3 linked regions of the Homo sapiens genome follow. The protein of the gene in region 3 interacts with the protein of the main gene of each other region in a pairwise test. Each region holds a gene or a part of one and is shown on either strand. Other genes may lie near its edges.

What was found.
Region 1: the proteins of DTNB (region 3) and CCDC88B interact in binary tests that used the Homo sapiens proteins (3 or more experiments, as listed by UniProt).
Region 2: the proteins of DTNB (region 3) and FAM167A interact in binary tests that used the Homo sapiens proteins (3 or more experiments, as listed by UniProt).

What each region holds. Positions count from the first base shown.
Region 1 is NC_000011.10:64,350,204-64,357,203, reverse strand, and holds part of CCDC88B (coiled-coil domain-containing protein 88B), read right to left. Parts: intron 6,045-7,000; coding exon 5,949-6,044; intron 5,729-5,948; coding exon 5,588-5,728; intron 5,075-5,587; coding exon 4,818-5,074; intron 4,461-4,817; coding exon 4,317-4,460; intron 4,151-4,316; coding exon 3,964-4,150; intron 3,854-3,963; coding exon 3,708-3,853; intron 3,490-3,707; coding exon 3,391-3,489; intron 3,201-3,390; coding exon 3,034-3,200; intron 2,011-3,033; coding exon 1,804-2,010; intron 1,645-1,803; coding exon 1,576-1,644; intron 166-1,575; coding exon 110-165; 3' UTR 1-109. UniProt on the Homo sapiens protein: Acts as a positive regulator of T-cell maturation and inflammatory function.
Region 2 is NC_000008.11:11,463,754-11,471,314, forward strand, and holds the start of FAM167A (protein FAM167A), read right to left. Parts: upstream 3,001-7,561; 5' UTR 2,873-3,000; intron 1-2,872.
Region 3 is NC_000002.12:25,621,559-25,628,642, forward strand, and holds part of DTNB (dystrobrevin beta), read right to left. Parts: intron 6,827-7,084; coding exon 6,613-6,826; intron 1-6,612.

The sequences.
Region 1 (7,000 bases), on a different chromosome or scaffold from region 3:
GGACTCCCCTTGGGGTCCCTGGCTCCCTGAGCTCTTGGGCTGCCTGGGGCCTCCGCTGACACTCCAGTGCCGAGAAGGCTGCACTCCCAAGCCTGCTGTTCCCACGGTGTCACTGGCTGAGGGATGGGGTGAGGGGACGTTTCTCCGGTTCCTGTACCTCAGGGCCTAGAGGGAAAGGCTCAGCTGAGATCTGCTTCCCTCAGGAGGACTCCCAGAGTCCCAGGAGGCCCACAGGCTCGAGCACCTTCTGCCCACCCCCGACCTGCCAATACCCCCCGCTTCCAGCTGCACCACGCCTGCTGTTCCCTCAGCGGTTCCCTCTGCCCAGAATGCTGTTCTCAGGTATGTCCACACGACAAACTCTCCCCTCCAAGTCTTTGCTCCAATTTCACATCCTCTCTGAGGCCCACCCCAGCACCCCAGTTACTAAAACTCCAACCAGCCTGCCCAGAGCTCCTGAGCTCCTGACCCCTCCCCTGCTCTCCTTTCTTCCCAGAGCATTAGCGCCTCCTGATGGTCCAGCCGGGTCTAGGGCTGAGCTGCCCAGGGCGGAGCTAAGTAGGTGAGATGGGGTTGGCCTGTGACGTGCTTCAAAGACCTACTATGTTTTTTTGTTTTTTGTTTTTTGTTTTTGAGACAGTCTCACTCTGTCACCAACGCTGGAGTGCAATGGCGTGATCTTGGCTCACTGCACCCTCTGCCTCCCAGGTTCAAGCGATTCTCCTGCCTCAGCCCCCTGAGTAGGTGGGATTACAGGCATGGGACACCATGCCTGGCTAATTTTTGTAGTTTTAGTAGAGACGGGATTTCACCATTTTGGCTAGGCTGGTCTCTAACTTCTGGCCTCAAGTGATCTGCCTGCCTTGGCCTCCGAAACTGCCAAAGACTTACTATGAAAAAAATCACGTCTGGCTGGGTGGCTCACACCTATAATCCCAGCACTTTGGGAGGCTGAAGCGGGCGGATCACCTGAGGTCAGGAGTTCGAGACCAGCCTGACCAACATGGTGAAACCCCGTCTCTACTAAAAAAAATAATAATAATTATACAAAATTAGCCTGGCGTGGTGGCCCATGCCTGTAATCCCAGCTACTTGGGAGGCTGAGCCAGGAGAATCGTTTGAACCTGGGAGGAGGAGGTTGCAGTGAGCCAAAGAGTGAAATTCCATCTCAAAAAAAAAAAAAAAACATCACGTCTAATAGCTCATTCATGATTTTTACACTGGCTACATGCTGAAATGGTAATAGCGTAGGCATATTGAGTTAAATGTTATTAAAATCCATTGTACCTGTCTCTTTTCACTTTTTCTGGTAAGCCTACTGGAAAAGTTAAAATTATCATGTGGTTCACACCATATTTCTAGTGGACAGGGCTGTTGTAGATAATAATTATTTTTAGGCAAATTGTTTACTATCTGCCTCCTCACACCAGAACGTTCCCTGCTGTGTCCCCTGCCAGCACGTCACCTGGCACTTGGTAAAGGATCATTGTCGAATGAAAGAATGGATGAATGAGGTTCTGCCAGGGGCCCCAGGCAGGACAAAGAATACTACTCCTTCCACAGTCCCCCACTCACCCTCTCGGTTGGCATCTGTTTCGTGTTCCTGCAGGGTCTCAGCGGAGTTCTCCCATCCCACACCAGGTCCTGGGAGGCACAAGGCAACCACTGGGCCCAGGGCCAGTGCGGAAGTGGACAGAGCTTGCAGGAGACACAGGGGACAAGAAGGAAGCCTCCTCCCCCAAGGAGCTGGTGGGTCCACAAAGAGTTGGGGGGCTGGCTGGTACAGTGACCCTTGTCCCTCACCTTTGCTGTGGGAGACGGGCGCCCCCAGGGGGCCTGGATGGCGCTGTCGGAATCGTTGCCTAGGGGTGTCCCCAGGGCTGAATGACTCAGAGCTTCGCCCCACCGGGAACCTTGAGCTGAGTTTCCGCCGCTGCCCGCCTGCCAAGGTCTCATCCCGCAGGCAGAGGGAGCTCTGGGCCCGGCGCATGGGTGCCGGGGAAGGGGACCCTGCAAGAGGTACATGCAGGGAGGGGGTGAGAGGAGGGGACGGGAGCTGAGGCTCCTGTAGGGAGGAGGTCAGAGAATGGGGGGAGGCTGAGGCTCACGCAGGGAGGGGGTCAGACAAGGGGAGGGGGTGCTGAGGCTCCTGCAGGAAGGAGGTCAGAGAAGGGAAGTGGGGGCTGAGGCTCATGCACGGAGAGGGCCAGAGGAGGGGAGAGGGAGCTGAGGCTCATGCAGGGAGGGGGTCAGACGAGGGGAGCGGGGGGGCTGAGGCTCCTGCAGGGAGGAGGTCAGAGAAGGGAAGTGGGGGCTGAGGCTCATGCAGGGAGGGGGTCAGAGGAGGGGAGGAGGCTGAGGCTCATGCAGGGAGAGGGTCAGAGGAGGGGGGGAGGCTGAGGCTTATGCAGGGAGGGGGTCAGAGGAAGGGAACGGGGACTGAGTCTCATGCAGGGAGGGGGTCAGAAGAGGGGGCTGAGGTTCATGCAGGGGAGGGGTCAGAGGGGGGGGGCGGAGGCTCATGCAGGGAGGGGGTCAGAGGAACAGGGCCCTGGATGGAGTAGAGGGGCCAGTGGGTGAAGCTGCCCAGGGCCAGGGAGGGGAGGTGCAGAGGTGGGGGAGAAGCCAGGCAAATGAGTGGGGCAGCAGGACACTGGCCCTGTGCTGGCCTTCATACTAACTCACTGCATGACCTTGGGCAAAAGCTTCCCCTCCCGGGGCCTCAGTCTCCTCATCTGCAGTCTAGGAACAATGACCTCTCCCTAGAGTCCACTGCACCTCCCAGATCCTGGGCTCCGCTGCGGATGGGGCAGGCTGGGTCGGGGACAGCACAGGCAGGAGGGAGGTGTGGGCCAAGGGTGACCCTGTAGGACCCAGGGAAAAGAGCCCCTGGTGGCATCAGGGCAGGGGGGGCAGGCCTCAGGGAAGGCCAATGGGGTCACGCATGCAGGCCAGGCAGTGAGGCAGGTGCCAAGGTGGGGGACAGAGGATGTGGGGCAGGGACCATCCTGGCCACCTGACCCCCAGACCCACCTGTCCCATCTGCCTCCCTGCCCTCAGGAAGCTCCGTCTCCGGGGGGCCCCCCAGGCTCTCGGTGCTGCCAGCCCCATCGGCCCCCAGGCGCAGCCCCCCAGGGGGGCCCCCCTCCCGCCGGGGCCGCATCAGCCTCTTCACCTTGTCTGCCAGCCAGCTGCCCTTCCTGGGGGCAAGAGGGCACAAGAGGGGGTCAGGACAGGGAGGAGGGAGGGAGCAAAGGGTGTCCTGGGGATGTCAAAGGCCAGGTTGACCTTCATGGGGCCTGGACCTGAGCTGGGCCTGGGGTCAGAGGCCAGGGCAGGGGCAGAGGTTAGCAGGATGTCCAGCCTGAGGGAGGTGACAGGGCTGCTCACTTGGTCCGGGGCAGGGGCACAGGCTCCAGCACGCGGTATTGGTCCATGATCTTCTCCACGAGCTTCTGCTTCTCGCGGCGCAGGGCATTAAGCTGGTCCCTGGCAGGAGTGAGAAGGGAGAGGTGGGTGTGAGGCCCAGGGAGGCCGAGGCAGTAGCAAGGCACAAGCTGCAGCGAGGACGCACTGGTCCCGTGCCGCAGATTGGACTGACCTGGAAGGTCAGCTCCAACCCTGTCCCTAGGCCCTCACTAAGGGCTCTCCCCAGGAACGCCCAAAGGGGATGCAGGCCCCACCCCGCTCCCAGGCGGCCCACTCACAGGTACTCCCGCTGTTCGCGGTGCAGGTGGTCCCGACTCTCCAGGCTGCGCTCCAGGAGCTCCCTGTTCTCCCGGCTCAGGGCCTGAACTTCAGCCAGCAGCTGCCGGTTCTCCTCTTCCTGGGCACTTCGCAGCTGTGTCAATAGCTGGCAGGGGGGCACCATGGCTCGGAGGGTGGGACCCAGCTCAGGACCACCTGGGTCTAGGCTTTCTGCCCCACCACACGCCCATACCCCCACCGGCCCTCCAGCCACACCTCACACTGCGTGGTCAGCCGGCAGGCGCTCAGGTCCAGCTGCTGGTTGGACTCGCGCAGCTGCTGGCTCTGCATCTCCAGCTGTGCCCGCTCCAGCTCCAGCCGCGCCAGCCGGCCCCGTAGCTCCCCGCGTTCACCCTGCAGCTCACCCCGCTCCCGAGACAACTCTGCCAGCAGCATCTGAGCCCTTGGGAGGCAAGGAGAGCTGCTCTCCAAGGGACCTGGGTCCCCAGTCCGAGTGCTGGCCAGAGAAGTTATGCCGGGGAGGGGAGGCCAGACAGGACCCCACACCCCCAACCCACTTTCAGGATGGGGCCACTGAGAGCTGCTAGAGGCTGTGGCAGGGGCGGCACCTGTCGTGCTCGCTCTGAAGCCTCCGCAGCTCCTCCTCCAGGCCCCGCTGCCGATGCCCATCTTGCATCAGGCGTTCACGCTCTGCCAGCAGGGCCACCTCCTGTGCCTCCACGCTGGCCCGCTGGGCCTGCAGCTGCTCGTGCCTGGGATGGACAAGGGGCTAAGAGGGCTGTGTGAACCTATGGCCACCACAAGCAGCTGGCTGGACTATCTGGACCCGGGGCGGGGGGGTCTGTCACCTCCTAAGCCTAGGTCCCCCAGAGGAAGCCATTGGGCAGAATGCCATGCCAGGTGCCCACCACTCCCAATAGGTGAGCCCCACGGGGAGCCCAACCCAGAAGTGTGGGGAGCACAGCTACCCCAGAGGGCACAGCAGTGGCCGGGGCATCACAGAGCGGAGGTGGAGGTGCTTCCTGATGGGGAGTCAGACCTGCTGAGGGGAGTCTTCTCTGGCAGATAGGGGGTGCCAGGGGAGGAGCTGGGCATTTGGTGATGCTCACCGGCCCTGCAGCTCCCGGTGGGCCAGCTCCAGTGCCCGCATGTTGGCCTTGAGGTCTCGGTGCCGCACCAGCAGTCCCTCTAGCTCGGCCTCCTGCCGCCGCTGCAGCTGTGCCAGGGCCTTGTGGTCCCGAAGCAGGGCCTGCTGCTGCCCGCGGGTCTCCTCCTGGGACTGCCGTGCCGCCCGCACCTCCTCCTCCAGCACCTCCAGCTTCCGGTGCAGCTCCTGGCCCTGAATCTCCAGCACAGACTTCTCGGCCTAGGATGGAGGAGGGAAGCAGGGGCTGCTGGGGAGGAACCCCTGGCTGGAAATCGAGTGAGAGGCGGGGGGCTAAGGGCAGACGGTAGGGCCCAAGACAATGAGAGAGTTGTGGAGGAGGCAAAGGGCTGGGGGCACAGCAGGCAGTACAAGCCCCAGCCAGAGGCTGATGGTGAGCAGGGGAGAGGCGGCAGAGGCTGGCTGGGCCAGGCTGTCCGGAAGGGGCACAGGGCAGAATGGGACTAATGGCGCCCTGTGGAGGGGAGGGCTGGGACAGTGAGAGCGCAGGGCGACATGGGTGTAGATGTGGGGGCTGGCGGCAGGTAGGAGGAGATAGTGGCAGGGAGGATGGTGCAAAATGGTGGCTGGGGTCAGAGGACAAGGATAAATGAGACTGGGGAAGAGGTGGGGCAGCTGGCTGGGAGCTGGGATAGAAAAAGGCCACAGGATGATCCAAAAGGAGCAGGAGGGGGCAGTACATGGGCAGGGATGGGCACCCGGGCCACCACCCACCTGCAGGCGGCTGCTGTGCTCCTGCGCCCGCTGGCTCTGCAGCAGCAGCTCCTGGGCACGGCCCTGCAGGCTCCCCAGCTGCCCCTCCAGGTGCTGCAGCTGCCCCTGCAAAGCTGCCTTCTCTGCCACCAGCATCGCATTCTGCCCAGAAGTGGGGGTTAGCAATAGCCAGGTGGCGGGGGCACCCCCTAGTGCCTACCACAGGCCCACACTCACACTGCATGGGGCACCCCCACCCCCGGGCCCACTGTGAGTCCACACTCACACTGCACGGGATACCCCCCAGCCCAGGGTCCACCGTGGACCCACACTCACACTGCACGGGGCACCTCCCCAGGGCCCACTGTGGGCCCACACTCACACTGCGCTCCACCTCAATAAGCCGCACATTCTGGGTCTCCACCAGCTGAGGCTCCGCACGCTTTTTGGGCCCCAGCCCCGCGGGGCCCTGGCGCAGCTGCAAGGAGAGTCCCTGGGAGGTCATGCGGGACAGCCGCAGTGCCTTGGGGATGCCTCAAGGACCTGCGCTTATGGACCTGCCCTGCCAGCAGCATTTAGCCTAGTCCACCCCGCCCCAATCCCATGCCTTCCCTTGGATCCCACAAGTCCCTGCTCCTGGTTCCTGAAGCTCCACCGTCACCACCCTGCCCTTCTCAACTTCTGTCTCTCTGCGGCAGAGCCTTCTGCTCATAACACTTCTCCATCCCACTACTCCTCTAAGACTATTTGGTTTTTTGTTTTTGTTTTGAGACAGAGTCTCACTCTGCCACCCAGCCAGGAGTGCAGAGGTGTGATCTGGGCTCACTGCAACCTCTGCCTCCCGGGTTCAAGCAATTCTCCTGCCTTAGCCTCCCGAGTAGCTGGGATTACAGATGTGGGCCACCACGCCTGGCTAATTTTTAGGGTTTTTTTTGTTTTTTTGGGTTTTTTTGAGACGGAGTCACACTCTGTCACCCGGGCTGGAGTGCAGTGGTGTGATCTCGGCTCACTGCAACCTCCTCCTCCCAGGTTCAAGCAATTCCCCTGCCTCGGCCTCCTGAGTAGCTGGGACTACAGGCGCCCACTACCATGCCCAGCTAACAGCTAATTTTTGTTGTTGTTGTTGTATTTTTAGTAGAGATGGGGTTTCACGGTGTTCATCAGGATGCTCTCGATCTCCTGACCTCATGATCCATCTGCCTCGGCCTCCCAAAGTGCTGGGATTACAGGCGTGAGCCACCACGCCCGGCCTGATTTTTGTATTTTTAGTAGAGATGGGGTTTCACCATATTGGTCATGCTGGTCTCGAACTCCTGACCTCAGGTGATCCACCTGCCTTGGCCTCCCAAAGTGCTGGGATTACAGGCATGAGCTGCTGTGTGGGGCCTTCTCTAAGCCTCTGTTTCAACCCCACCTTCTCCACAAAACCTTCCC
Region 2 (7,561 bases), on a different chromosome or scaffold from region 3:
ATGCCCCCAGTGGGAGAAGGTGAACCCTCATCCTCTTCAGGTTTCTGCAAAGGCCGCTGGGGAGGAGGATCACACTTATGGGCACCCGAGGGACCTTCTGGAAATTCCTCAGTGAAGAGAGCTTTGTGGTGGGGGAGCAAAGCCACCCCCCACTATAGATGACAACTTGGGGGGAGCTACTATGTGCTTGCTAAGGCCACGTGGCAGGGCCCTGGCATGGAGAGGAGCCTGACGCTAGACAGCTGCTGCTAGAGAAGAGAGGCCCCCTTGACGGCTGTGCCCACAGGGAGACTGGGCTACTGCTCAGCAAAGTCCTCTCGAGAGTGGCTGATGGATGAGATTTGATGCTGCCTGGCAGAGATGAGCAGGCAGGCAGTGTGCAGAAGGAAAGGGGGTGAGGTGGGAGCAGCCCCCCTTGAACTGCTCTGCTCACCTTCTTTCTCCATGCTTGTCCTTCCTCTCCAACACTTCTCCAGAGAGAAGTGGTAGGGGTCAGGGTGGGGAAGAGTTGGCCTTTAATGGACAGGGCAACGGTCCTAACCAGGGAAAAGCTGAGACCTGCGGCCTACCTGACTCATCCTGGCAACACGGCCCTCGGTGGCAGCTCAGACTCTACAGGTGATTGCAGAGCCAGTGAGGCTCACCTGCCGCCCCTCCTAAACTCTTTTCCCACCCTGTCCCATCCTTCCTGCTCCCCACCTCCCCCTGCCCACCATGTAGCCCATCCTCAGCCCCTCAAGGTCTGTTTCAGTCTGTGCTTTTCCTTCCTGTCTCCACATGGCAATCCAAGTCTCGGGGTGCATTTGCACAGTAACAGCCAGCCAGGCTAATCCTAAGGGATTTCCAGTTAGTGGCACGTGCGTGCTCTCCCACCCCTGGTCTGGAAACCAGGAGCAAAGTGCTCAGTTACTCATTTTCCGCCTTTGCAAGCAGCTCAAGTCCCTTGGGAAAGCACAGCTCCCAAAGGGTTCTGGGAATACCGGGGCTCCTGTAGGGCCAACGGGGCTTTCTGTGAGCAAGATTTGCCTAGAGAACACAGCAGCCAGGGTGTGAGAAGCCTAGCAAGTAGTTTCTTCCTCATTGGCCTGGGGCTCTGTGGCTCTCTCTCAGCAAATAGTTAGGCATGGCCTTAATTTATTTCCCTGCCAGAGTTCCTCCTGGAGGGGGGCCAAGCTAGTAGACAGGAAGGCGGGGACTGGCAATTTAGTAGAAATCCATGCATGTAATTGCGAGGACCAGAAGAACAGGAGCAAGTGCGCAGGGAGTCTGGGGGCTCTGGGCAGGCAAGGAGGAGAACAGGGTGTGGGGGAGCAACCCTTTCTTCTGCTTCAGGTGGGAAGAATTGAGGCCGGCCAGGCCCAACAACACAGCCTTGCAAGCTCCTAATAGAAGAAATGGCTTTCCTGGCTCCACAGGGTTCCTCAAGCAGGCAGGGGACCTTCTCAGGTCATAAGATGAGCCCCACGACACAGTTCTCATTTCATCTGGGCGTGAGTGGTTTCTGCCCCTCTCTGGGCCTTAGATGCCTCAGATTTCCCAAAGCAGCCTTCGTCTGAGAGCACTGTCCCGGGAGTCAGGCACGTGAGGCTGACTCTCTGCTCTCTCACCAGGTGTGGGAGCCACACCAGGTCACTCAATTTCTTAGAGTCCCATTGGCAAAACGGATAATAGAGTCTCCTTGAAGACTGATGGGGAGGATGGAGTGACCAAGGGATGCGAAGGGTTTCTAAGTAGTGCATGGTCCATAAATGCACTCAAGAAAGAAGAGCTGTCATCTTTATCCATTCCAAGCACAGCCCATGGCTGCTTTCCAAGCTCCTTAAAAACACGCTGCAGAAGTTCCTATCCTGCCAACGCCCTCAGGCAACAGGCGCCACAGCACCTCTGCTTTCCCAAGACTTTGTCCACGCTCTCCACGCTCCATCCCGAGCTTAGTGAGGGGCAGGACTGTGTCTACTGTGTCAGTGGGAAGCTGCTTTGGAGCATGTGCCCCTTGGTGAAAACCCTGTGGATAGGACGTGATCTCATCTTCTGGGATTCTCCAGCAATGACGGGGAGTTTGTGGAAACTTGACTTGGGAGAACCTGCTTGCAGGCATACGGCAGTGGCCAGCCCCCAACCTAGAGTCAACCCTCCTTCCAGATCTTCCCAGGAGGTCCCAGTCCTCAGAATTCCCTCCAAGCCCCGCCGGGAATAAAAACCAGGCAGTAACGGGTGTGCAGAAAACCTATACATCCAACCTAACTTGGCTGAAGAAGACACCCTCCCCCCCGCCGTCTGTGCTCCGGTGTCTCGGTGACTCAGGGTGCCCACCTTCACGGCTGACCTGCTCATTCCCGGGGGCCCCTGCGGCTGTGCCGTTCCCTCAGGTCACACTGGCTTGGGTCCTTAGAGCACCCTTGGGTCCAGGTGCCCTGGGCCACCTCCCATTAGTTAGGGACCGCATCCGTGGGGACAGAAACTTCCATCTCACTGAACCTATACACAGGAGCCAGGCTGGGCTTGGAGGTCACCAGCCGCCTGGGAGTGGACCCGGAGAGGCTGAGTGCGGCCCTCCCTCTCAGACGGCAGACCCCGAACCTCCACCCAGAATCCGAGCCCGGACACGGCCAGCAGGGAGCTAGGAGATGAAGTCCAGCCCTGGCTGCCCGGCTCCTCTGGGAGGGCAGCGAACCCGCGGGAGCGCATGAGCGGCCTCTCCCGGGGGGGCGGTAGGAGCGCGTCCCCTCCAGGGCGCTTTGGGATCGGGCTGCTCCGGGCCAGTGCTCGCGCTGGGGACCTGCGACGCCTCAGCCCCTGCCCAGACTGCGCCGCCCGCCGCGGCCACACCTCCCAGTCCCTGGGAAAGTCCCCGCCGCCGGCGCGAACCCACCTTCCGGGAGCCCAGGGGCCCTGCTGGGGACTCGCCGGTGTCCCCGCCGCCTCCTCCTGCGCGGGTCCGCGCTGCCCGGCCTCAGCTCAGGGCTCCCGCCTCGCCTCCCCGAGCTCCGGTGAATTCTCGGCGCTGCTCCTTTCGGAAAGGACTTTTTTTTTCCCCCTGCGTTGCGTCAGGGCGGTTGCCTGGCGACGGCCGAGCTCTCCGCCGCGAGCCTTTCACCGCGATCCCGGCCTCGCGTTCTCGCCCCGGGTCCGAGCGCGCCCCGGGTCCTAGCGCCCTGTCGGTTCACCGGCCCGGGCAGCCCCCGCGAGTGGAGAGGAACTACATGCCTTCGCCAAACCCCAGATGAAACCAAACCCAAACATCCATTTTCTCATTAAACCCGAAACCAAGGCAGTTTCCCCCAATTGTGGCAACGTGACTGCGCCACTGTCAGAAGTTTGTCCGCATGGAGGGCGCAGGGGGACCCCACGCCCAGGGCCTCACCCACCCCCAAACGGCAGGAGTTCATAGGACCCGCGGCCACGACTGCCCGCGAGCGCCTACCGTGGGCCACGCCCCCCAACGACCCAGCAGGGCAAGTGTAGGCATCTCTGGCTGCCAGATGAGGAAACTGAGGTGCAAAGACGCGAGCGTTTGCCCCACTAACCACAGGGTGTCTGTCCCGCCAGGGGCGCGGCATCGGCCACCTCTGGCTGTCGTTAGATTCTAAGACCCAGTCCCTGCTGCATCAGAGCCCAGAGCTGCAAACCCTAAGGCACAGGCAGGACAGCAGCCCGAGCTGCCCGGACCGCAGGTCTTCAGGACCAGTCCCAGCTTCTGACGAGGGGCCCAGGCCAGACACTGGAGGCCCCAAGGCTGGTTACTGGATGGGGGTCTCTTACCCCAGACCTCATCAAGCACCTTTCCTAGATGCCCGGGGCTGGAAGCGTCTTTCAAAGGGCTCCAGTCTGCCATTCTCACGATAGCCCTGGGCGTGCGCGCAGGCGCCGCCTACATGGCCAGACGCGAAGCTGAGTGGTGGGGCTGCAAAGTGACTGGCGCAGGCTCCAGGCAGGTGCGCGGCTGGTCGGGCCTTCTGTGGGGTCTTAGCCCCTGCAGGGGCCCGAGACACTCGTGCTGCCCTCTGGTGCCCGCGTCCTTCACTGCAACTCCGCATCCAGCCCTGACCTACTCCCTTCCTTTCTGACCTTCACTGGAAGGTCCTCTGAGGGACGTCGTCTAAGGAGACATCTTGCCAGTACAGACCTAGTCATGCTAATGAGGGAACGGTCCTAAGCTAGCGGGTGTATTAACAAGCATCTTTTGGAGAGTCACAGCCTTGATCCAGATCTTCTGATTCCAGCTCCTAAACATCACTCCTTCCTTCTTCCTGCCCGCTGCCACTGTCCCTACCCAAGCCACCAGCAGCTTGCCCTACCCAGTTCTGGGACCTGCCACCCGGGTCCAAGCGTGCACGCAGTCTCCATACTGATCTCCCTTTACCCTCTCTCAGCGCCTCCCAAGCCAGTTACTCCTCCACAAACAGGGGAAACTCTTAAGAATGGAAATCCAGTCTCAGCTGCTTCTGCTTAAAGGCCTTCAACGCCCCCAGTCCTCTGAGGATTAACAGCTAGCTTGGCTGCAGGGGCCTGGCTGGCCTCTGTCCGTCTCTAGGGCCTTGTCTTGCACAGACCCTGCTCCCCAGACAACAGACCCTCTTCCAGTCCCATTGTGCACCTGCTCCTCCCGACAGGCTGCTGCAGCTCTGCCTCCTAAGGGAACCCCAGGTTACAGGTGCTGGCAGCCCCCTGCCTTATGTCCTTCATGGACCAGTTATAATTCCAAGTTTACCTGTGAGGTTATTTGATTAGTATGTGTCTCCCTCTGAGGCAGTAGGCTCCGGAAGGGCATGAACCATGTTTGCAAGCAGGAGCCTCAATCTGGACTTGGGGATAAAGCATCCTTCTGGGTGCTGGCTGTTTCTGACCACAGCCCCGGTGCTGAGCCCTAGTTGGCTGCATTGCTCACTGGTGTGCCCATGGCCCTGGCACGTGGTGAATGCTCCAAGATCTTTTTGGATGGGCCATTCAGCCCCATCTGGAAATGCTTTGTCCCACCTCTACCTCCTGGCTCCCTGTTTGACCTATGGCTTCTATTTCTGGGAGTGCAGATGCTTTCTCATGGGGGAATTGTGGCATGCCTCAAATGGACAGGCAGCCTGTCCAAGGCAAGGGTGGTGTCTTGCCCTGTGGCTCCCATTCTGCCTGGCATTTGTCTGCGGGCAGGAGGGTAATCAGTGATGGGGACCAGGAGGAGAGTGGGCCAGAGGAAAGAGGAAGGGGAGGAGGAAGAGCAGTCTTGGTTGGAGTAGCCTCAACTCCAAAGTGAAATCATATGGAGTGGTCAAATAAATGAGTTAGCACAGAATGGTATGTAGCCATAGAAATAATATTCTCAAAAGCTATTTGATCATATAGAAAAATACTAACGATTTAACGCTAAGTAAATAAGACTGGGACACCAAATCCTGTGTACATTATGAAACTTCTCATTCCAATATCTAATTCATATGTATGCATGGAAAAAAGATTGGAAGAGTGTATGCAAATATTAGCTGTCGTTATCTCTGGGCTGCAGGATAATGGAGGATTTAAAATGTCTTCTGTAAGCCTGCATTCGTTTTCTACAATGAATCGTTTTGTAATGAGAAACATCAAGAAACACTACTCAAAAGGGAAGATGGCACTGTGTTGGTGTTTCTGATGGCACTTCCTTTTGTGTCAGGCACACTGAAACCCAGTGATGGTGGGAGGATCTGGGTGGGCCAGAGAAGGCAAGGCCACCTAGAGGTTCTCTCTTCCCTTTGATTCCTTACAGAGAAGTTTTCTTTCCGTTGGTGCATGATGCATGAGACATTGCCTCTTATAATCCTACAGGAAGCTGTGAAATAGATGAGTCAAGAAAAATGCCCAACCAGGCATGGTAGCTCACACCTGTAATCCCAGCAATTTGGGAGGCCGAGGCAGGGGGATTGCTTGAGCCCAGGAATTGGAGACCAGCCTGGGCAACATGGTGAGACCCCACTTCTACAAAAAAAAAATGAAGAAGAAGAAAGAAAACTCAGCTGGGCATGGTGGTACACACCTGAAGTCCCAGCTACTTGGGAGGCTGAGGTGGGACTGCTGGAACCCAGGAGTTGAAGGTTGCAGTCAGCCATGATTGCACCACCGCACTCCAGCCTGGGCAACAGAGCAAGACCCTGTCTCAAAAATAAATAAATAAATAAATAAATAAATAAATAAATAAATAAAAGATTTAAACTTAAAATATTCTTTCAGAATTTCTCCCAATTCGTTTATTCATCTGTTCAATAAATACGTATTAGTACCACTAAATACCAGACATTGTTCTAGGCTCTTGGGAAATGTTAGTGAACAAGTTAGATGAAGGACCTCGCCCTTGAGAACTGATAATCTAGCAGAGGAAAGCAGGCAGACGATGACCGACAAATACGCTAAGTAAATAAGCAATATTGTGAGTGATAGAAAAACAGAATTGTAGACTTGGATTGGAAGTAATGGCAGAGGAGGGGAAGAGTGTGCACGTTTTCAGGCAAGGTAGGCAGGGCTGGCCTCGCTAATAAGGTGGTTTTCTAGCAAAGATTTGAGGGAGACGATGGAGGGGGTCTTGTGGTGTCTTGGGGAAGGGTGTTCTAGGGAAAGGGTCAGTGCAGAGGCCCTGGGCCAACAAACGTGCCTGCCACAATCAGGGGCCAGCATGGATGCCTCGAGGCCAGAATGCAGCAGGCAGGGAGTAGAGCATGGGTGGGAGATGACATCAGAGACAGGGCAGGGCAGGTGCTGCGGCAGAGCCCTTGGGCCTGGCAGACCTCGTGAGGACTGGCCTTCCCCCGAGGGGAGCTCCAAATGCACAGCTGGAACCAGACTCTGCTCTCTTGTCACTCTCAGGGCACAAAGCCCTCTCTAAATCAGTCTCTCCTGATCCCTTTTGAGTCTATAAGCTACTTGAAGGCGATTCCTGGATTCTAGGGATACAAGAGAAGGAAGGATGAAATTTCTGTTGGGCTCTGTGGGACAGAGGACACTAAGGGTGGCGACATCCCTGCCCTGCTCCAGGCAGCAATGAAGACTCTCAGCCCAGGGCCAGAGTCCACCGGTCTCTGCTGTTTTCCTGTGAAGGGACTTGTCCATCCGTGGGCCCAGAGTTTCAAGAAGAAGCGGGAAGTGACTGTCTTAGGCATGTTCAGCTGCAATGGCTCCTCCCTGCTCTCATCTCTCAGAAGAGGCTGATTCAGGCTGAAGTTCAGAAGGACAATGAGGGCCAGCTTTCTGTCTTCTAGGGAACCTGTTAGTTCCATTTAGGGGCGGCTGGCTCTGTGCCACCCGGGGGCTAGACATGGGAGTGTGGCGCACGTGGCTTTTTGGTAGGAAGATAATTAACAGAGCAGTCACCACACAGAGCGTCCACCTTAGTGCTGGAGTAGGGAGGTGACAGATTCCACCTGAGCCTAGGTGAGGCGGAGGAGTGGGCTTCAGCTAGGAGAGGTGCCCACTCTGAGGCAGCAGAGGGAACTGCATCTGGAAGGGCATGTGCGGAGGCTTTGTGCAGAGCAGGAGGTTGCTCAGCGGCCGAGGTGAGGAGTGGCGGGCACAAGGGCACAGCTGCAGGGCTCGGCGCAAC
Region 3 (7,084 bases):
GCCTCAGCCTCCCTAGGATTACAGGCATGCACCACCACCATGCCTGGCTAATTTTTTTTTTTTTTTTTTTTTTTTTTTAGTAGAGATGGGGTTTCTCCATGTTAGTCAGGCTGGTCTTGAACTCCCGACCTCAGGTGATCCGCCTGTCTCAGCCTCCCAAAGTGCTGGGATTACAGGCATGAGCCACTGCACCCAGCCTAAACCAACATTTTTAAATGGTTGTTAGCCACATTTGCAAACTACACAGGAATTTTTTCATATAACTCTATTATAAATTATATAAGTATCTTTACACCAAAGGAATCTTTCGATTGTTCAAATTAGCAAGAATGTTTTCTACTGAGTGTTATTGTAGATGGTAAACAATAACCCTAGGCCTTTAAATGATGTGTTCAATACCGTATTTTGTATTTTTTAAGATTTAGATGTATTTTACAGACTTTGTCCAAACTAGTTTCATTAGATACATCATTTTTTTTTTTTACCAGTTTATTCCATTTTTAAGGTGAAATTTCATTCTATTTCTGAACCAACACTTTTGGTAAAGGCCACAGACTCATTTGTAAAACATAAATGGATGAAATATATCAGAGGAAAAAATAAGATTCAACAGTCAGAAATAAAGTATAAGAGCAATCTGGCCGGGTGCAGTGGCTTATGGCTGTATTCAATCCCAGCACTTTGGGAGGCCAAGTCGGGTGGATCACTTGAGGCCAGGAGTTTGAGACCAGCCTAGCCAACATGGCAAAACCCCGTCTCTACTGAACATATAAAAATTAGCCAGGCGTGGTGGCGTATGCCTGTAGTCCCAAATAGGAGGATGAGGCATGAGAATCGCTTGAATCCAGGAGGTGGAGGTTGCAGTGAGCCAAGATTGTGCCACTGCACTAGAGCCTGGACGACAGAAAAATAAATAAATATATGTATTTATTTCCATCTTTGTACCTTGACTAACATACCTTTATAATGGCCAGAAATGTCATGTTCAAATTTAGAACTGTAAGGCACCCCATACTCCTACGTGGGAAGAACCTGATCCCCTTTTCTTCCCACCTCCAGCACATCCCATGCTTGAAAGGACTATGCATGCATGTGAACACTCTAGCCCACATGTCCAAGTTCTGCCCACATTCTCAGCAAACATCCACTCCTTGGCTAGTCCTTAGACACAGGGATACAACTACTTAGAAAAACAAAACAAAACAGAACAACATACACCAGGTTTGGAAGCATAAGTCCTAGAACAAATGGACCAAGAATTTAAAACTAAGAATAAACATGTTTAAAAAGACAATACGAAACAAGAACCACAAATCCCAAAAAAGAAAAATCAGATATATTACATATAGAAAATATAATAGCTAAAGAAATAACAGATGGAATAAACAGTAGGATGGCTCCAGAGGAAGAACAAATTAATGAGCAGAAAGGCAGATCAATAAACTCTTCCAAAAGGAAACAAAGTTAAAGAAATTAAACCATATGTGAGGAACACTAATAGATAAAGAGGAAAGAAGTAGAAATGCCAACAATCAGAAAACGAGAAAACAAAAACAGAGGAAATATTTGAAGAAATAATGAGCTTCTGGTAATAGCACCCTAGGTGATTCTGATCAACTCTTCCTCTGAGCAAAAAAGAAAAGATGGGGAAAGTTTTAAAAAATCTCCTTGAATATAAATTGTTGAGAACTAACAACTGAAGTTACCAAATGCAGGAGAGGCTGGATGTCCAGGGAGGTGAGTGCAATGGATGAAATCACTTTTTCCATGTAAGTGATTTGATTCCAGAGGGGGAAGCAAAATTGCTGAAGTATAGAGTAACTTTTTGATGGTACTGGGGACAAGGAGAAAGACATGGAGGCTTGGACTTGCCAAGGCAGAAGGGGTCCCTTGGCAGGACACGTGGTCCTGCTTACCCTACTCTCCTATTAGTTTGGGCTCAGAGCCCAAAGGCTTCACCTAAAGGTAATCGTGTCCAGAAGTAAACAGGTCCTCACATGTACTGATTAAGAAACTGAATTGACGTGATCCTGGATTGTTAAGGTCTCCAGGCACCTGGAAGAAGCAAACACACATCCTTTCTTGAAGAAAACATCATCCTAGGCCTCAAATTATCCCTGCAAATAATTCTGCAATATAATGTTTGGTATATAATAAAAATAATTTTGCTATATAATGTTCAGCCTATAATAAAAAATAACAAAGCAAATAGGAAATAAAACATCATTAATGAAAACCAGAAACAACAAACAGTACAAAAAGAACCACAGGAAATCTAGATATTAGATTGTAAGTGTAAACCAAAAATAAAATTCAAAGGCCCCCTGCAACCATCTGAGTGGACTCCCTCCTGGGCCAGGGCACTCTGAAATTTAACCAGAAAGACTGGTTAAGGCCATGATGGGAAGCTGGGGATGGACATGCCTCATGATACCCTCCAGTGTTAACATCAACACAGACCTTAAGTCTGAGAAGAAACATCTACAGTCTATTCTCTCTAGAGCCTACTATTTGCAGGCTTCATCTGTGTGATAAAACCTAGCTCTCCACAACTCTTTATCATAACTCTTTCAACCAACTGCCAATCAGAATATGTTTAAATCTACCTATGACCTGGAAGCTCCCTGTCCCTCTTCAAGTTGTCCCACCCTTCCAGATCAAACCAATGTAAATCTTAAGCGTATCTGATTGATGTCTCATGTCTTCCTAAAATGTATAAAAGCAAGCTGTGCTCTGACCACCTTGGGCACACATTGTCAGGACCTCCTGAGGCTGTGTCATGGGTGTCTAAAAGATGGGTACTTCTGCTCGGTGTTCAAAGAAGCCAACTCTTCCTTAACCTCAACTTCAAAGAGGAGGCATTTAGTAGAAGCTGCTCACAGGGATTTTGTGAAGTCAGCCTAAGGATGGAGCTGATACAAGAAGGGGGCAAAGCCGCGCAAAGAAATAAAGCCAGAGCTCTGATGCAACCAAGATGAGGGGCTGGCCTGCCTCTGGACCCCTCAGTTTGTCAGCCTATACACATGTTGTTATGAAAAGGCCATGTGGGTAGGCTTTTTACAGCTAAAGACACTGGACTAACACAAAGGTTGGAAATAGAAAGGGGATTTTTAAGTAACAAACCTTAAAGTGTGAAACTGGCTCAGCTATAGAAGAGTAAGGAAGACCTCCTCTATCTCATGCTGGGAATTTGGATATCGTTATTATATTGGTTAAAGCACCTTTGTTGTACCTTTGCACCAGACTGTATGACTACCAATAACATTGTACCGGAGAAACTGAGAGGAAAAAAATGCAGCTATCAGTGTTTTCACAACTCCTTGTGGCTTTCACTAAGATTCTACACCCAGGTGTTTTGTGAATATTGGTCTCTGTGCTTTTCAATGTTTTTAATTATCAAAATATAACATATTCAGAACTCTCAGTATTAAAAAAAATTAGGTCTTAAGAAAATACTTAAGGAAAAGTCTTAGATCCTATTTGTTCCTGACCGTTGTTGTAGGGTCTTATACTCTCTTATTATAATGATCAGAAATCATCTGGCCAAACACAGGGACTATAAATTTGGAGGTGAGAGAAGATTAAATAATTTTTGCTTTCAAACTTTAACCTTATGGAATTATGAAATACAAAGGCTGGAAGCCTCAATTAAAATAAATAACTAGGTTGTCTATGTATAAAAGGAACTCTCCAGCCTAAGTAATAAAGCGGCCAATCAATAAAAAGACTAACATTTGAAGTATTTAACGACAAAATGCCCTGGTTTTCAAAATTAACATTCTGATAACCAGATTCTTTCTTTTTTTCCAACACAAGAAGGTCAATTTTAAGCTTCCAGATAGCCAAATAAGCTCTATTATATAAAGGTATCAAAGTTAGTAAAGATGTGATCATTTATTCTGATACCATGGTCTATGTTTTAAACACATCAAAGTAAAAATTACCCAACTCACTAATAACATACTATACCCCTTACTCTTCTTAACTCACTCATTTTTTTTTTTTTTTTTTTTTTTTGCTAGTTATTTTCGGTGTGTGTTTCTACACATCTGCCTTCAACTGATTCACTGTCCACTTATTCTCGTCTCTCTGTATGTGTCTAGCTTTCTCGGAATATGGCCCAGGATATCCTTGTACCTTCTGCTTCTGAGTTTGGTCCTCCCATTCTCCCTTTTGCCATCTCTGCCCTCTTCCTTCCTCTCCCTTCTTTAGCCATATGCTATAACCTGAATGCCTGTGTTCCCCAAAATTCACATGTTGAAATCCTAACCCCCAAGGTACGGTATTAGAAGGTGGGACCTTCTGAAGATAATTAGGTCACGAGGGGGTCCTCATGAACGGGATTAGTGCCCTTATAAAAGAGGTTCCCGAGAACTCCTTTGCCCCTTTGTCATGTGAGGATACCACAAAAAGGTGCCGTCTAGGAGCCAGAAAGGAGGCCCTCCCCACACACAGAATCTACCTTGATCTTGAACTTCCCAGCCTCCAGAATTGTAAGAAATAAATCTGTGTTGTTTATAGAGAGTCCAGTTCATGGCATTTTGTTAGAGCAGCCCAGTAGACTAAAGCGCCATAGTATTTAACTTACTTGACATGATTATGGAATCCAAGATTTTAATCTCTGCTTGACCATTTTTAGACAGTAAGATGGTTTTAATTTCTGACTTTAAAAAATATTGTTTCTTGAGTTAATTTGTGTTGTGTGACCCATGAATTGGTTTACTGAGTGAGTCAGTGTCATGATAAGGTGCTGCTTACTTATTACAGAATAACAATTTTTACTAAGGGTTTTGAAACAAAAAGACAGTTCCTGAGCAGGAAAAAATTAACCTATGGAGTCACTAACTAAAATTACTAAAAAATGGCATTAGAATTCTGGGACTTATGACACTTACACACTCTTATTTTTAAAATTCAGATTTCTGCCGGGCACAGTGGTACACACCTGTAATGCCAGCTACTAGAGAGGCTGGGGAGGGAAGACTGTTTGAGCCCAGTAGTTAGACCAGCCTGGGAAACACAGCAAGACCCCATCTCAAAAAAATAAGTAAATTTCTTTAATAATTTTCTATTAAACGGATACAATGTCTAATCTGATAACGGCTTATAAAAATGGTGTGAATTTAGTGAGTGCTTAAATTATGACTTGGCTTTGACATTTCCATAGTGTTACCACTAATTCACAGACTCCTCCCTATTATAAGATATAACTAATAGCATTTTACAAATGTATGAACTCAAAGAAGGTCTACAGACAGCAAAAAATGAAGCAGAGACAATCCATTCAAATCAGATGGCCAAGAGTATAGCAGAAACTGGAACTCTTGGTTCACAGAACATCACCATTTAACCTCTGTACTTCCACAATCATAAATCTGTGCTTTACAATTTTGTTGTTTCATTCTTTACAATACCAACTCAATTCTCTACGAATATAAGTGCAGCAAATCATTTCCGTTTTAATTGGAGTACATTTAAATAGTTTTCTTCTTTTGTTTCAAGATCTACTAAACTATGTTCTGCAATGAAAAAATTTAAAATAGGTTCCTAGACATAAAGAGAAAATCTGTTTGGCCAGGTGTGGTGGCTCACACCTGTAATCCCAGCAGTTTGGGAAGCCAAGGTGGGCGGATCACCTGAGGTCGGGAGTTTGAGACCAGCCTGACCAACATGGAGAAACCCTGTCTCTACTAAAAATACAAAATTAGCTGGGCGTGGTGGCGCATGTCTGTAATCCCAGCTACTTGGAAGGCTGAGGCAGGAGAATCGCTTGAACCCGGGGGGTGGAGGTAGTGGTGAGCCGAGCTTGCACACCATTGCACTCCAGCCTGGGCAACAAGAGAGAAACTCCATCTCAAAAAAAAAAGAGAGAAAATCAGTTACTATAGTCCAATATTTGATGTTACAGAGTAAAGATTAGCCTTCTGAACAAACTAGGCATAGAAGAAAAAAGAAAGAGGAGACTTAGAAGTCAAATAGAAAGCCCCATAATCAAATTCAAAACTTAGTGTTTTTCATGAGCTGGAGGACAGCTGTATTAAGGTATCTATAATTTTCCCAAACAATACATCTCAAATGTGATTCTCCACAATATTCCAGAGTTTAATATATGACATACTCTAGGACAGTAAGTCACTGTGAACCAGTTTCTAGAGGGGCTTACACCGAATAATTTTCCTTTTTTTTTTTTTTTTTTAAGACAATGTCTCGCTCTGTCGCCCAGGCTGGAGTGCAGTGGTGCAATCTCTGCTCACTGCAACCTCTGCCTCCTGGGTTCAAGCAATTCTCCTGCCTCAGCCTCCTAAGTAGCTGAGACTACAGGCGCCCACCACCACGCCCGGCTAATTTTTTGTATTTTTAGTAGAGACGGGGTTTCACCGTGTTAGCCGGGATGGTCTCCATCTCCTGACCTTGTGATTTGCCCTCCTTGGCCTCCCAAAGTGCTGGGACTACAGCTGTGAGCTACCGTGCCCAGCCAATAATTTCCCTTTTAATCATGATTCTAAGTTGCCAGCTTAGCAAGGCAACTTAGCACGGCAGTATGGAAGAAGAATGATTCAGAGACAGGTGTTCTTAAAATGAAGTAAGCGTGTAAGGTAAGGTACTACTAGCCTGTCATATGCAGCAATCATAAAGTTGAGGAGGAGGCTGATAGATTGTTCCACACTAATTTGGTGAGTAGAAGGAAGGCGCTTGTTCAACTGATAGTAGATGGAGGAGATGACAGTTTCGAGGCGGGACACACTGATCTCGGTGGTATGGTCCAGTGTATTAAGGCCATTGTCTCGGAAGGCTTCAATCATGTTCCAGATATCAACAAGATGAACTAAAAGACAAAGAAAATAAACTGTCAACAATTTTAAAGTGTGGTACTACCCTTCACAATAGGAATCTAAAATTTATCAACTAGTTCTTAAGTTTAAAGAGAAGAAACTCTTTAGCCAACAATGAGGAAAACATTCTGTGGTCAAATAAAGAACATCAGTCCCAGACAACATCAAGGAGCCACCACAGCGGTATGGGAAGGACTACTTCCAGCCTTCACATTTAAATAGCGAGTATTTCACGTCTCTGCAAATAGTGA